Linked DNA regions of Homo sapiens. The protein of the gene in region 2 interacts with the protein of the main gene of each other region in a pairwise test. Each region holds a gene or a part of one and is shown on either strand. Other genes may lie near its edges.

The links. The genes of interacting proteins can lie anywhere in the genome.
Region 1: the proteins of CRACR2B (region 2) and IL36RN interact in binary tests that used the Homo sapiens proteins (3 or more experiments, as listed by UniProt).

What each region holds. Positions count from the first base shown.
Region 1 is NC_000002.12:113,054,222-113,062,212, reverse strand, and holds the start of IL36RN (interleukin-36 receptor antagonist protein), read right to left. Parts: upstream 3,016-7,991; 5' UTR 2,972-3,015; intron 2,802-2,971; 5' UTR 2,775-2,801; coding exon 2,746-2,774; intron 1,362-2,745; coding exon 1,276-1,361; intron 90-1,275; coding exon 1-89. UniProt on the Homo sapiens protein: Inhibits the activity of interleukin-36 (IL36A,IL36B and IL36G) by binding to receptor IL1RL2 and preventing its association with the coreceptor IL1RAP for signaling.
Region 2 is NC_000011.10:823,289-830,934, reverse strand, and holds the start of CRACR2B (EF-hand calcium-binding domain-containing protein 4A), read right to left. Parts: upstream 3,017-7,646; 5' UTR 2,328-3,016; coding exon 2,163-2,327; intron 2,084-2,162; coding exon 1,972-2,083; coding exon of another isoform or gene 1,752-1,971; intron 1,576-1,751; coding exon 1,395-1,575; intron 968-1,394; coding exon of another isoform or gene 950-967; coding exon 803-949; intron 686-802; coding exon 598-685; coding exon of another isoform or gene 315-597; coding exon 222-314; intron 70-221; coding exon 1-69. Other genes in the region: PNPLA2 (patatin-like phospholipase domain-containing protein 2), read right to left, coding at 6,073-6,412, 6,499-6,621, 6,805-6,937, 7,080-7,241, 7,348-7,408. UniProt on the Homo sapiens protein: Plays a role in store-operated Ca(2+) entry (SOCE).

The sequences.
Region 1 (7,991 bases), on a different chromosome or scaffold from region 2:
CAGGCACTGGCTTCCACCCTGGACACCCAGGATGACGGGGGACAGGCTGGCATCCAGCCACCGATTGGGGACCACGCTGATCTCTTCACCTGTGGGAAAGAGGCCAGATGCAGGGCCCTGGATGCCTTTCCCTCCTTCTTCCCCTGTCCTGGGCTCTAGGGCACAGGACTGCTGTAAGACGGCCTGCCCCCAGGCTGGGCAGAAGGGAGGCTTCTCAGCAGCTGTCATGACATGGCTTCTCCTGTCCACTGGCTCAGAGTGGACATCAAGGCATGGAAGCACATTGTACCACCTCCACTCCACCCTCTAGTTCAGGGTCAAATCTTCAAGCCTCTACACCCCAAAATAGATTCAACCCCCTCCTTTAATGTCCCTTGGGTCTCAGGCCTTTTTCTGAACCCTGTCTTGATAAGCCCCCCTTTGGAATTGTTTGGACAACTTTCTACACCCTGTGATGTTGCTGAGAGCAAAAGAGGGTCTCATTCCTCTCTGTACATCCCCTCACCACCCACATACATCAGATACATACATACACAGATACATGCATGCACACATATACATATACACACACATGCTCATACCTACATACCTGCACTCACACATACATGGTTACACACAGATACATGCATGCACACATGCTCACACATATATGCCTGCATGCACACATACATACACCAGTAAGCACACACATACACATATGGCCTAGCTGAAGGATCTACCTGGCATCTGTGCTCAGCAAGGGTGCCCCAGGTGGGCAGGTGCAAACTATTTTAGAGAGGGACGTGTTGCAGTGCATGGGGCAGAGTGAGCAAGCAGGAGGTCCAACAATGCCACCTGTTCTCTGGGTCCCTCCACTCTAAGTGACTGAGGATCTTCAGAGAGCAGAGGGGACCCAGGGTGGAGAGGCAGAAACCCACTCCCATATGGGAAAAAAGGTATAGAGAATCTACGTTAGTTCTCTCCTTGGTACTTACTGGCTCCCAGGGAATGCAATGCTTGACCTAAATCTACCTGTAAGGGAATGACAAGACAAGCCTCTTGGAAAACATTCCCACTTCTGCATAGAAGCTTCAGGTGGCCCCAGAGCCTGTGTCTTCACTTTGCTGAGAGGTGTAGTATTTTATTTGCCTTTGCTTAGAGCCTGGTTTGTGCTGCCCCAATGCCTGGGCTCTGTAGGCCTATGCTAATCTGTATGACTATTCTAAGCCCTCTTCAGGCCCCCTCCCCTGAGAGTGTATAGAGACCAAGGAAAGTGGGTCATGTTTCATCACCAACCTTTAATGACCTTCCCTGCATGCAGCCCTCCAGCTAGAAGCTGGTTATTATGCAGATAAAGCACCTTCAATGCCGAGTCCTTCATTCTGAAACATCAGGAAGGGGTGAGGACTACATTAGGAGGAGGGTGGACACTCCAGCATGCCCTGGATCCAGAGAACCCCCTGATCTCAGGCATTTTGTCTCTCTTTCTTCCTACTGTGCCAGAAGTAACAGCACAGCCTTGTCTCCCAGCCCTGCTGGGCTCATGCCCTACAAGGAGGATGACCCCACAGTCTCCCACTGGAGTCTGTGGTTTGCTCCTTCACCCTATTCAACCTTTTCTGCCCCAACCCATCTCCTGCTGGAAGAGAAGCTGCACGGTGAGTCAGAGCCCTAGGTTCTTGCCCCATCTCTGCCTCCAATGCTGCTGAGTCGCAGGAGACAACTCTCTCGCCCACTCTGGGCCTGAGCCTCCCCATTGCTACACTAAGATGATGGGTTGGATAACATCCAGGCCTCTTCCACGTTAAAGCCTGATTCTTCAATTCTTCAAGATACATGTATTTCTATTTGGTCATATATTCCTTACTAAGTGAGGAGTTTCTTTAAATTTAAATTTCTTTTATTTAACTTTTCAAAGTTGTTTCTCATCTTTGAACTCAGTTGATTTCCTGGCATCCTATGAGGTGGAAGATGTATCCTAAAGTGGGTTTCTCCAAAAGTTATATGGGGGAAAAGGATGCAGTGTAAAAATTGGGTCGATGCATGGCTAAATACAATTCAACAAGTTGCCTTACTTCAGAAAACCTCAGAGTCACTCATATGCTGAGCTGGGCTGTGGTTCTCTTATGAGAGGATGTAGAAAGCAGAATTCCCTGCATTTACTTGATCAGAGAGCTCCACTGTGTAAAGCATCTCCTGGATGCCTCTGTGGGACTCCTCTAATCGAGTCCCATAGAACACATCATGGGAAGTGCTTTATTAGACTGAGAGAAAGGACCACTCTCATCCTCTGTTGTAAAGCCCAGAACACGGCAGAGTGTCTGGCTTGGTACATGCCAGTGGGTGGACAGACTGACTGATGGTAATGGTTTTTGTTTTATTATTATCCCCAAAGAGTAGCAGGGAGGCAGGGGCACAGAGTGGGTGAGCTTACATCCATTCACTGTGATGGGGGACAATGGCGGAGCTCTGAGCAGGGATCCTGGCCCCCGTTCCCACCTTGGATAGACTTGGCTGGAGCTCTAGACTGGGAGGTTCACTTATCCCCCTCAGCATCAGGGACCCCTTGTGAGATGGCCTGCCCCAGTCCTGCCCCTATTTGAAAAAGGCTGGGAAAACTCTAAGAGCAGTGAGGTGCTGGTCACAATTTCCCAGCTGCAATGGCAGCCCCTCCCTTCCTCCCTCCTGCTCAGAGCTGGACAACGGGTCTATCCAGAACTCACTTCCTCCGGAGGACACCACCAAACCAGGGCCTCATACACTCACCGGAAGCACAGCGCCCCACTCAGGACCATCTTGAGCTCCACAGGGTGTAGACTCCCCTATTTTGGAATAAACAACAGAAAATCATGGAGAGAGAGGCTGAGTTGGCTGGGGTCTGGGGAGCAAGCAGCTGCACCGAGCTCCCCAGCATGTGAACAGCCTCCACGGAGCAGATTCTGGGTCTGGGGTCAGGAGAGAGCTCCGGTACCACCAGCGCCCCAGAGCATACCTCAGAATGTTCCTTTCTCCTGGCGGGAGCTGTGGAGTCTGCCTGTTCCTCCAAGGATGCCTCAGCCTTTTAAGTAAGGCCTAGGGAGGGGCCCTGAAACTGCCAGGACCTGAGGAGGAGCAGGATTCCCAGCGTGATTTCACATCACCCTAAGTCGCCAGAAGCACTTGCTGCTCATTATCTGTCGTGGGGAGGGAAGCTTCTGGAGACAGTTTCCTTCCAGAAATATTGAAGAACTTCCTTGAGGCTTTCCAGCTCTTTGTGAGCACTAGGCTTTTGCATCTCAGGGGCTTTCAGACCCTAAGAGTCAGTGCCCATGGCAGCTCAAGGGAAGCGCGACTTTCTTTCCTCCCTGCCTCCCTCCCTTTCTTCCTTCTTTCCATCTTTCATTCACTCACTCCCTCCCTTTTCCCTTCCTTTCTTCCCTCCCTCTTTCCTTCCTTTCCTTCTTTCCCTTCCCATTTCCTCCCTTCCTCCCCTATTCCCTTTCTTCCTTACCTTTTTCACTCCTTCCTTCACTCCTTCCCTTCTCCCTCCTTCCTTCCTCTGTCTTTCCTGCCTGCCATTGCCAGGCCTACAGGAGATGTTAGAGGTGGGACTCTCCTGCTTAGGGAATGTTCAGCCTACATGTTCATTGTAGAAAAACCTGAAAATCCAGATCAGCCACAAGAAAAAATGTGAATACTTGTCTTTTCTGAGTGCATCATCAGAAAACCAATGACAACACTATTTCCTCCACACACATACACATGTAACTATAGACAGCTTTCATACAACAGATTCACAAAACCTATACTTTTTCCAACCTCATTTTTTCATGTGGCAAAATAGCAAAATATCTTTCCATACTAAATATGAATAATGACATGCTTCAATAGCTGTATAGTATTTAACTGTATCACTGTAACATTATTTATTGAAACCTATCCACTGTTATTTGTCTTTTATATATTTTTCTCTCTTTTTTTGCTATTGAAAACCATGTTGTGACAAACATCTTTGTATTAACATCTTTGCTCATGTATCTGGTTATTTCTTTAGAAAGTAAAATCTAGCTCATGCCATCTATAATTCTGTAAGTGATCTTTCTTGAATACCTAATTGATAAGATAATACTTAATTGTGAAACAGTTAATGCAGTTTAAATACCTCCATGCACTCTCTGTGATGGATCTGAAATAAAGGTAAGGGTCAGTGCACAAAAAACAATTTAATTATATCTTGAATAACACAGATAACTATTTATTAATAATTTATTGTTAAAGCATACACTTTTTTTTTAAGTTTTATTTTTCTTTTTTCTTTTATTATTATTATTATACTTTAAGTTTTAGGATACATGTGTACAATGTGCAGGTTTGTTACATATGTGTACATGTTAAAGCGTACATTTTAAAGAAATGGTATTCAGACATATGAGCCAAGAGGTCCTACAAGTGTTCAAGAATAAATAAAATATCAAGTTGTTCAAAACACAGAAAATAATCTACGATTTTCATAATGCCACTAATATGATAGACACTTTTCAGAAAAATAAAATTAATGTAGAAACTGCCTTGTACAAAATTATTAAATTACAAATTGACCAAATGGAATGACAGTAGAAATAAGATGAAATGAGACAAGCCTGGCCAACGTGGCAAAACCCCATCTCTACTGAAAACACAAAAATTAGCCGGGTTGGTGGTGCACATTTGTAATCCAAGCTACTCAGGAGGCTGAGGTGTGAGAATTGCTTGAACCTGGGAGGTGGAGGTTGCAGTGAGCCAAGATTGAGCCACTGTACTCCAGCCTGGATGACAGAGAGAGCTAGACTCTGCCTCAATAAATAAATAAATAATAAGTAAAATGAAACTATGACTGTGTATACTGTCAATATTATATGAAAACATTATCAAACAGGCCTCACCAACAATAAGTTCTCTCTGGACCTATCCCTTTGCTTGACTTACTAATTAGGTCTCAGACTCTGTGAAATTAGCCATGAACTAAGAGAACATTGATAAATTACACATTATTCCTGTCTGATAGAAAAGATAACTCCAAAGGGTGCAGTTTTATTGCCTCACAAGTCATAAAGCTGTCTTTAAAACGTAACTTAGCCAACCTATTTCAGCCTTTATTTCTTGACTGACGGTATAAGCCTCCATTCCCTGAATTATCTTTTGATAATCAGCTTTATAATCTTGCTGATTCCCTCACTTATGAAAAATAGTAAATCTTTGACACATGCTCACTATATGTGTGTATGAGAGTCAAGTTTTGAACTTCTGAAAAATAAACTTTGGCACTACCTAAAGACAATGCTGCCAATTCGCAAACCATGTGTGGCTGTTTTAAAATATGTCCATAAATTCTTGGAAACTTCATCTTTAAGAAGGTGATATGGTTTGGCTCTGTTCCCACCCAAATTTCATCTTGAATTGTAGCTTCTATAATTCCCACGTGTCATGGAAGGAACCCAGTGGGAGGTAATTGAATCATGGGGGCAGGTCTTTCTTGTGCTGGTCTCATGATAGTGAATAAGTCTCACAAGATCTGATGGTTTTATACAGGGGAATTTCCCCACACAAGCTCTCCTGCCTGCCACTATGTAAGACATGACTTTGCTCTTCTTTCATCATCTTCCACCATGATTGTGAGGCCTCCCCAGCCATGTGGAACTCTAAGTCAATTCAACCTCTTTCCTTTATAAATTACACAGTCTTGGTTATGTTGTTATTAGCAGCATGAGAACAGACTGATATAGTAAATTGATACTGGGAGTGGGGCGCTATGTTACATGATGAACATGGCAGCATCATAAAAGGCATTGCAATTTCCTCCTAGCTCTTAGATCACTCACCTGGACAAAGCCAGCCACTATGTGATAAGGACACTCAAGCAGCCCTATGGAGAGGCCCACGTGGTGAGAAACTATTTTTTCCTGCCAACAGTCTGTGAATGCACAATCTTAGAAGCAGATCCTCTAGCCCCAGTCAAGCCTTCAGATGACTGCAACCCTGGCTGACATCTTTCCTGTAACCTAATGAGACACCCTGAGCCAAACCCTCCAGCCAAGCCAGTTTTCTCATTCCTGACTCTCAGCCTTTGTTAAATAATAATTTTTTCTTGTTTTAAGCTGCTAACTTTGCTGATACTTTGTTACACAACAATTGGTAACTAACACACCTTGACATCACTATTGGCATTTCAGCACTTTAACACTTTGCCTGTTACCCAGCAATTTGGAACTGGGTAAAAGGCAGAGGTTGGAACAGTTTGGAGGGCTCAGAAGAAGATAGGAGGATGTGGGAAAGTTTGCAACTTCCTGGAGACTCACTGAATAGCTTTGACCAAAATGCTGATAGTGATATGGACAATAAGGTCCAGGCTGAGGTGGTCTCAGATGGAGATGAGGAACTTGTTGGGAACTGAAGCAAAGGTGACTCTTGTTATGCTTTAGCAAAGAGACTGGCAGCATTTTGCCCCTGACCTAGAAATCTGTGGAACTTTGAACTTGAAAGAGATGATTTAGGGCATCTGGCAAAAGAAATTTCTAAGCAGCAAAGTATTCAAGAGGTGATTTGGGTGCTGATAACATTCAGTTTTATGTATTCACAAATATATGGTTTGGAATTGGAACCTACATTTAAAAGGGAAGCAGAGCATAAAAGTTTGGAAAACATGCAGCATGAAGATGAGATAAGAAAAACCTATTTTCTGAAGAGAAATTCGAGCTGGCTGCAGAAATTTGCATAAGGAAAGAGGAGCCAAATGTTTTTCACCAAGAAAATGGGGAAAGTGTCTCCAGGGCATATCAGAGGTCTTCACAGAAGCCCCTCCCATCACAGACCTGGAGGTCCAGGAGGAAAAAATGGTTTCATGGGCCAGACCCAGGGCCTGGCAGCTTTGTGTAGTCTCAGGACTTGGGATGACTTGCATCCCAGCCACTCCAGCTTTGGCTAAAGAGGGCAAAGGTACAGCTTGGGTCATGGCTTTAGAGGGTGTAAATCCCAACCCTTGGCAGCTTCCATGTGGTGTTGAGCCTGTGGGTGCACAAAAGTGAAGAACTGAGGTTTGGGAGCCTCCGCCTAGATTTCATAGGATGTTTGGAAATGTCTAAATGTCCAAGCAGAGGTGTGCTGCATGGGCATAGCCCTCATGGAGAACCTCTGCTAGGGCAGTGCAGAAGGGAAATGTGGGGTGGGAGCCCCCACACAATGTCCCCACTGGGGCATTGTCTAGTGGAACTGTGAGAAGAGGGCCACTGTCCTCCAGATCCCAGAATGGTAGATCCACCAACAGCTTATGCTGTGTGCCTGGAAAAGCCACAGACAGTGTCAGCCCATGAAAGCAGCCAGGAGGAGGGTTGTACCCTGCAAAGTCACAGGAGTGGAGCTTCCAAAGACTATGGGAACCCACCTCTTGCATAAGCATGACCTGGATGTGAGACAGAGACTCAAAGGAGGTAATTTTGAAGCGTTAAGATTTGACTGCCCCGCTGGATTTTGAACTTGCATGGGGCCTGTAGCCCCTTTGTTTTGGCCAATTTCTCCCATTTGGAATAGCTGTACTTACCAAATGCCTGTACTCCTATTGTATTTAGGAAGTAACTAACTTGCTTTTGATTTTACAGCTCATAGGCAGAAGAGACTTGCCTTGTCTCAGATGAGACTTTGGACTGTGGAATTTTGAGTTAATGCTGAAATGCGTTAAGACCCTGGGGGACTGTTGGGAAGGCATGATTGGTTTTGAAATGTGAGGACATGTGATTTGCGAGGAGCCAGGGGTGGAATGATATAGTTTGGCTGTGTCCCCACCCAAAGCTCATCTTGAGTTGTTGCTCCCATAATTCCCATATGTCATGGAAGGGACCCAGTGGGAGGTAACTGAATCATCAGGGCAGGTCTTTCCTGTGCTATTCTCATTCTAGTGAATAAGTCTCATGAGACCTGATGGTTTTATAAAGGGGCATTCCCCTACACAAGCTCTCTTCCCTCCTGCCATGTAAGATGTGACTTTGCTCTTCCTTCATCTT
Region 2 (7,646 bases):
CCACAGCTGGGAGTTCTGGGCCTGTGCCTCCAGGTGCTCCGCAGCCTGGGCGTGCAGCTGCTGCTCTAACTGGAGGGTGGAAGGATGGAGACCGGCGAGGAACGCCCCCTCTTCCCCGGGGTGCTGCGCGTGCCCCAGGCTCCCGACAACCCGGGGACGCTAAGGCACAGGGGGAGAGTGCACGGGTGACCGTGGGGACAGGGCAGGGGCCGGGTGCTCACCTCCCGCTGCCGCAGGCCCGCGCGTTCCAGGTCCTGCTCGCGGCTCTGCAGCTCCAGCTCCAGACGGCTTCTCCGCTCCCCGCGGGCGAAGTTCTGGGACGCACGGAGGACCACTGAGCCTCCGCCGGCCGCTCGGCCATGCAAAAGAGGTACACGGAGGGCCAGGGGCTGGGAGTGGGCCCGGGCGGAGCGGGGTCGGGTGGAGAAGACCGGACGGGGGTGATACGTGAGGCCCAGTGGGATCTCCTCGGGCTGAGGGCAGCCTGGACCCGCGGAGGTGGGGCCGTCGGGGAGGGATTAATTCAGAGAAGGCGGAGCCAGGGAGGCCAGCGAGGTGGGATTGGGCCTGGCGGGAGGGGCGGGGCCCGAGGCCCACCTGACTCGGCGGGCGCCGGCTCTGCTCCCGAAGCTGCTCCGTCTCCTCGTACAGAGCGCGCACCTCCCTCTCGTGCTCGCTCTCGCGCCTTCGGGGGACCGGGCGACCCCGGATGAGAACTTGCCAGCGCTACAGCCCCCTGGCACCGCCTCTGCTGCTGCCCTGAGGCCCTCCATTGGCCCCCATACCCCACCCCGGCCCTCACCTCCGCAGCGCCTGCTCCAGGCCGTCGCGCTCCCGGGCCGCCTCCTCCAGGCAGGCCGACGCGCGTATCAGAACATCCTCGAAAGAGCCCAGCAGCTCGGGGCGCTCGCGCTGCAGCCTGGCCCAGAGCGTCCTCACAGCCCGCTGCCTGGAGGGCGGGCGGGAACTGAGGCTGGAGCTGGCAGAAGCGGGAAGCAGGCTTCCCTCCGCCAGCAGCAAACCCTTAGGAGACTTCTTCGCCCCTGGGCAGGACAGGAGCACTTGCTGCGTGCAGGGCATCCCTCCCGTGAGCGCTTTCGCCCCTGCCCGGCGTGCGTGGTCGGTGAGGTGTGTGTACCCTGGGCAGTGCCGGTATGTGGCCCCGCGCCCGGCGCTGCCCCTCCTCCCTGCAGCCCTGGCTGCTGCCTCATGAAATGCAAATTCTGCGGGAAATCATGCCGGGTCCCTCCCAGGGAATCGCAGCTGACGCTAGGCTGGGCCTGACCCGGCCTAGAGACCCTGTGCAGAACCAGCACTCGGGTGACAAGGGCAGACAGCATGCAGGCAGAGAAACAGCAGAGCGGGCAGTGGGAGCGGGGCCAGCGCCGACTCACTTGCCCAGGACCGGGGCCACCCCCAGCTGCTCCAGCACAGTGTGGAATCGCTCCTCCTCTTCCTCCTCCTCATCCAGAGAGCCCGCCGTGCCCTGCACGTCGAGCCCGCCCGACTCAAAGGTCTCCTCGGGAGTCCTGCAGGGGTTCGCTCCCTGGGCTGACGCCACCCCCACAAACATCCCTGCGGGCATGGAGCGAGCGATTACCAGGGCTGTGGGTCGCCACCGTGGCTGTGTCCCCGTTCACCCTCCCAACGAGTATCCTGCCCTCTCTCAGGGCCCAGTTTCCTGTTTTCCTTCCTTATTCTGGTCCTATTGGCCTGGAAACAAGAGGTGACAGGCCAGCTCCCAGCCCTACCGGAGCTTAGCACAGGAGAGGAGCTGGGGGCCAGGAAGGTCAGCTCCACACACTCCACCGCAGCTAGGAGCCCCCAGGCGCGAGTGCGTGCAGACAAAGCACGGGCCCTGGAGGGAGGAGGACGAGAGGCACCGGCAGCCCTCAGGGCGCCACAAGTGCCAGGCCTCCTGATCAGGCCTCCAGCTCTGGGCAGTGGGGGATAGGCAGGCCACAGGCTCACCCAGGCCCAGGCAGAACTCCCTGGCGGTGAGGAAGCCAGTGTGAGCCCGGTCCAGACTTTCAAACACAGCCTCCAGCTGCTCTGGCGTGAGGGGCAGGTCGCTCTGGAGACCCTGGTCGGGGAAGGAGAGCAGAGATGAGCCGCTGCGGTCAACCCAGGGCCGAAGCAGTCTCTTGGGGTGGGGGACTCACCTGCAGGTCGTGCTTGGTGATGAAGCCCTTAGCCTCCTTGTCACACAGCAGAAACAGCTCCTCAGCCTGCTCCAGTATTGCAGCCCGCGGCCCTGCAGAGCCCCCCTCGAGTTCCCCCTCCTCCTCCTGGGCCTCATCAGCCCCAGGCTTTCCAGGGCTGGCCATGAGAGCAGGGGGCCTCAGCCTGGCCTTCAGGTGCTGTGAAGCCAAGGGAGGGTCAGAAGAAATTCAGGAGGGGAGCGGATGGGGTGCAAGTGTGTCTGAAGGCTCAGCCGAGGGCCCTCCCTGCAGCAGGTGGGAAGGTGGGCGGAAGGCAAGGTGGGACCAGGGGGCTGGGGGTGGAAAATGCTGCAGGCTTGGGGTGTCACTGGGGTGGTTGATGTAGGCTCAGGGCCTGTGGGTACTGCCCCAGTGGGTCTGGCATCTCAGGAGGCTGGAACCCAGGAGGGGCTGCCAACTTCAGGAGAGGAGGAGCTGGAGGTGATGGCAATCTCAGGGGCCAGTGGAGAAGACCTGGTGATAAGGAAGGTGGGGTCCTGAAAGCTGAGAGGAGCAGGCTTGGGGTCAGTGAGGGAGGAGCCCCTCACACTCTGCAACTGGAGATCTGATCCCAAGTGAGGGCTCAGCCAGTCCTGACCAAGTCCTTAGCCCCTGGCCTGGGCCTGTGTGGCCCAGCCTCATGACAGCTGGCAGGCAGGGCAGACTTCTCCCTCCTGCCCACCGGCCCCTCCCTCCCCACAACTGAGCCCACAGAGTGCAGGGGCAAGGTCCCAGCCTGCAGAGCCCTTCGCCTCTGACGCCCCACTCAGGAACACTTCCAGATTCGAGACCTAACACCCTTGCCCCACAACACTGAGGCCCTTCCCCGTTTCAGAACTCCCTGGGGCCTCCCTTCCCACCTCCTTGCAGGGACGCCCCGCCCCCTAACCAGAGCCACCTGTCCTTCACACAATGTCCTGATCCCGGATTTCCCAAAGCTGCTCCCCACCAACACCCGCCTTCCCCCACCGGGGAGCTGGGATCCTCTCCCCTCACTCTCCACCCAGCGTCCTTCCATGTTCCTTAGCCCGGGCGACCTCCAAAGAGGGCAAGTCTGGGCGGGTGAGAGAAGGGGACACGAGAGGCCAGGGCCATTGCCTCCAGGCCACGTTGTTGTCTCGCCCGCCCTCCGGCTTGCCGGCTAGACCTGAGGTCCACCCCAGCCGGAAGCCGCGCGGCAGCAGGGCCCCAGGGAGGTGGGAGGATGGGCTGGTGGGGTGGGGCGGCCAGCCTCCTGTGCTCCCCGAAACTCTGGGGGACAACCCCGCCCTTACCCCTGCCGCCTTGCGCCCCGAGGGGGTAACCGGAGTTCCCGACCGAGACGCTCAGGTTTGGCGCGGGCCACGGCGGCCCGGAGGGGGTGCCGGGCGGGCGGCAGTGGAGGGGCCTCAGCGGCGGGACCAGCGGTCGCCTACCCGCGAGTTGCGCCGCCGCACCTGCCGCGCGCCCGGGCCGCTCCTCCCGGAAACACTGGGCGCGCCCCGCCCCAGCTGGGACCCGGACGGGACGTAGAGGGCACTGGGCCCCGAGCGACCCCTGCCGCTTCGCAGGCACCGAGACCCCCGCTTGGGCCGGCCCCGGGAGGAGCCACTCTGCGCCGCTGTCGCCTGTCCCCGCCTCTCTGCGCTGCCCCGGCGGCCCGATCCCTGGAGGCTCGAGCGAGCAGTGAAGCAACGATATGCCCCAGAGACCCAGGGACCCCCCGGAGCAGGGACAAGGCTGCGGGGGGCGGGCGCAGACACCAGCGCCTGGGAGGGGCCCCTCCTGTCCGGGGGGAGCCCGACTTAAGGCGCCAAAAAGTGTGTGTAGGAAAAAGCCGGGCAGGAAACAGACCAAATACTTTCAGCGGTTATCTCTAGGGGTGGGGAGCCTTTACTTTCTTCTCTATACTTTCCCGGTTTTTAAACAATAAACATGTAGGCCGGGCGCCTGTAATCCCAGCACTTTGGGGGGCTGAGACAGGGGCAGATCACCTGAGGTCAGGAGTTCGAGACCAGCCTGCCCAACATGGCGAAACCCCGTCTCTACTAAAAATACAAAAAATTAGCCAGGTGTGGTGGTGGGCGCCTGTAATCCCAGCACTTTGGGAGGCTGAGCCAGGAGAATCACTTGAACTCGGGAGGCAGAGTTTGCAGTGAGCCGAGATTGTGCCATTGCACTGGGCAACAAGAACGAAACTCCATCTCAAAACAAAACAATGAACGTGTAATGCTAGAAAATGTTTAACTTAGCAGTATTCAGTGTATATGTATGGGTGAACGAGCTGGGGACTCAGGCAGGTCCCACCTCAGTAGCCCCTCCTGGCTCTCCTTCTGGGGCCCAGCCCTGACTGGGGCTCCCCTTGGGGGAGGATTGGAAGGAGGAGCTGCTTGAGGCCCGAGTGAAACCCTCCTGTGGGGGGAGAAAATTCCACCCCAGACCGAGGAGCCCTCCCCAGCCCCAGCCCCAGCCTGGCCCCTGCACCCACCTGAAGGGCTGGAATCACTGTCCCGCCCGGCAACCCTGGGGGGTACAAGGCCTCTGCTTTTCAAGGAAGGGGCCTGGGATCCAGCGTGCGACCCAGCTGAACCACAAAAGGCTGGGCTTATAGGACAGGACCTTGAGACCAAGGGGGGTGGCCTCTGGCACAGGCACATCAGGGACCTGCCTGGCCGGCTCGCCCAGTCCCAGATCCCAGAACCAACCGTTATTGTTGGCAGGGGGCTGCCACCACAGCCACCCCACGCCTTCTGGGAGGAGCAGGTGGGGGCTGGCTCCAGCACCCTCAGGCCATGGGGCCTTTTTGGTTGCCAAGGAGGGCTGGCCTTCTCCCCTCATGGCCTCCCTGCCATGAAGAGGATGCCCTCAGGAAACCACTTCCCCAGCACAGGGCTGAGTCCCCTTCAGCTAGGACCTCACCTGCCTCCATATCCCAGCCCTGCCCTGTGTACTGGCAGGAGGCTGGGCAGGGGAACAAGAAGGTATGTGCACCAGGCCAGAGAGGCTTGTGAGGGTGGGGGGACAGAGAACTTTGGGCCAAACGCCCAAGTGGAGCAGGGGCCCAGCTTTCCCAGGTCCCCTGTGCTTGGTTTCAGGAACCTCAGCCCCCACAGCTGGCCAAGCCCCAAAACAGTCACACACCCCACTGTGTCACCGTGTGAGGGGAGGGGCAGGCGACACCTTTTGCAAACATTTTCGTTTTTATTTACCAAGAATCTTGGTCCCAAATATTTCCATTGGCCCTCAGAAGGCTGTGGCCAAGGGTCAGCCAGGAGGCTGCTGGGCAAAATTGGGGGGGGTGTGGATGCATCCTAGACAGGGGGGTCGGCAGGAATGCAGTACGTTCATATGTGCCTGTAGGGGGGTGTTCCCAGGCCAGCCTGGCAGGTTCCAAATGCCAGGCCCAGGAGTGCGACGCTGGGAGACCTGGCCTGCAGCTGTGGAGAGGCTGGTCAGCCAAGGTAGGGCCAGACCCTGGCCACCAGGCTCTCACTGCAAGTAAGCAGGCGGTCACATACACACAAAGTGGGCAGAGGCTGGGCTGCAGCATTTATTACATGTGCTTTGGCGAAAATAAATAATTCTTCACACACATATTTCAGCAGGCCATGAAAAACGGGGAGGGAAGGGCAGCTGCAAAGTTCTCAGGAGTAAAGGGGCGGGGGAGGTGCTCGGGCAGCACAGGGGAGGGAAGATTAAGGCACAGGTGCGCGGGGCCTCAGCGGCCCAGGGGAGGGGTGTGGAAACCTCCCCTCTCAGTGCATGCAGCTGGTGAGTGGCTGGCGAGGGGGCCCACGGCAAAGACCCCTCTTGGCAACTGTGAGTCCCCTCATCTCACTGCGCAGTGGTAATGGAGGCGTCTCAGGCAGGGTTCCTCGAGAGGGTCGGGGTCTCACAGCCCCAGGGCCCCGATCACGGGCCGGGCCTCGGGAGCAGGGGTGCTCAGCAAGGGGGCAGGCCCGGCCAGCTGGTGCTGCGGGGATGCTGGGTCCGCGGGGGCGGGAGCCGGGTCGGCGGGTGCGCGCATGCGCAGAGCTTCGGGCGGGAAGGCCACGTTGGTGCAGAAGAGGCCGAGCAGCAGCTGGCGCTGGCACTCCTCCCACTTGGCCAGCGCGTCCCCCAGCGAGAGGTTGTTGCGCATCCAGCCGGGCAGTGCCTCTCTGTAGGCGGCGCAGGACAGCGGCACGGACGGCAGCGACTGGACGCGGCGCAGCTCCACCTGCTCCGGCAGCCTGCGGGGCAGGGATGCGGCAGGGAGGGCTTCAGCTCCCGGCGCTAGCACCGCGGGCCCCGGGTGGACGCGCGGTCGGCGGCTCACCTGGAGGGCAGGTGCCTGCCCAGCTTCCTCTTGGCGCGCATCACCAGGTACTGGCAGATGCTGCCCGTCTGCTCCTTCATCCACCGGATGTCCTCGGGAACGTCGGGCAGCCACTCCAGCAAGCTGGGGACAGGGCGAGCGGCGCGTTCAGGGACTTGGCCAGACCCACATGCCCACCCGCCGGGCCCTGTCTGTGCCCTGACTTGGCACTGCTCACCCCACCCCACCTTCCCTGGTAACCATCACTCGCGGATGATCCCAAAGTCCGTCCCCTGGGCCCCTCTCCCGACCCCCCAGCCCTCACACCGGATGGTGAAGGACAGAGCGCTCTCCAGCGGCAGCGTGTAGGGCACCATCATGGCCGTGGCCAGACGCACAGGCAGCATGTTGGAGAGGGTGGTCAGCAGGTCCGTGGGCTCCACGCAGGCCTCCAGCAGGGCTGCGGGTGGGCGGGAGGTCGGCGGCCAGTGGAGGCAGCGGGGCCCAGGACCCGCTCGGCTTCCCTCCCCTGCTCACCGTCCTCTCCTCTCTCTCTTTCCCTCCTGCCTCCCCTCCTCCCCTCCCGTCCCCCAGGTGCGCACCCTCATTGAGCCGGGCGGGCAGGTGCTCCAGGATGTGATCTTCTCCGGGCAGCTGCGAGTAATCCTCCGCTTGGGCGCTCTCCACTGCCTGGTCCTTGTCCTCTGGGCCGTGGGGGCGGGCGGGGGGCAACGCCAGCAAGGGGTTGGGCCGGTTCAGGAGGCCTGGGGTTGGGGAGAGAAGGGATTCTCAGTTCATCAGCGCGGCCGCGGCCCGCAGGGGGTAGCAGAGCCGAGCCCACCCCGCCCTCTCCCGCCCGGGTCCGCGCACCGTTCCGCTGCAGAAAGCGCAGGCCATCCCGGTATCCCTGCTTGCACATCTCTCGCAGCACCTGCAGTGAGGAGGGTTAAATGGAGCGGAGGGAGCCAGGGATGCCCGTTCTGCCCCTGGAATCCCTGGCACCCCCAACAGCCACCTCCCTTCACTACCCGCAGCTCCCAACCCCAAAACCTATCCTAGATCCAGAACAAGATCAAAGCTGTACAGGGAGGTTGGACAGAAAGCCGGGCGCAGTGGCTTACACCTGTAACCCCAGCACTTTGGGAGGCTGAGGCAGGCGGATGACGAGG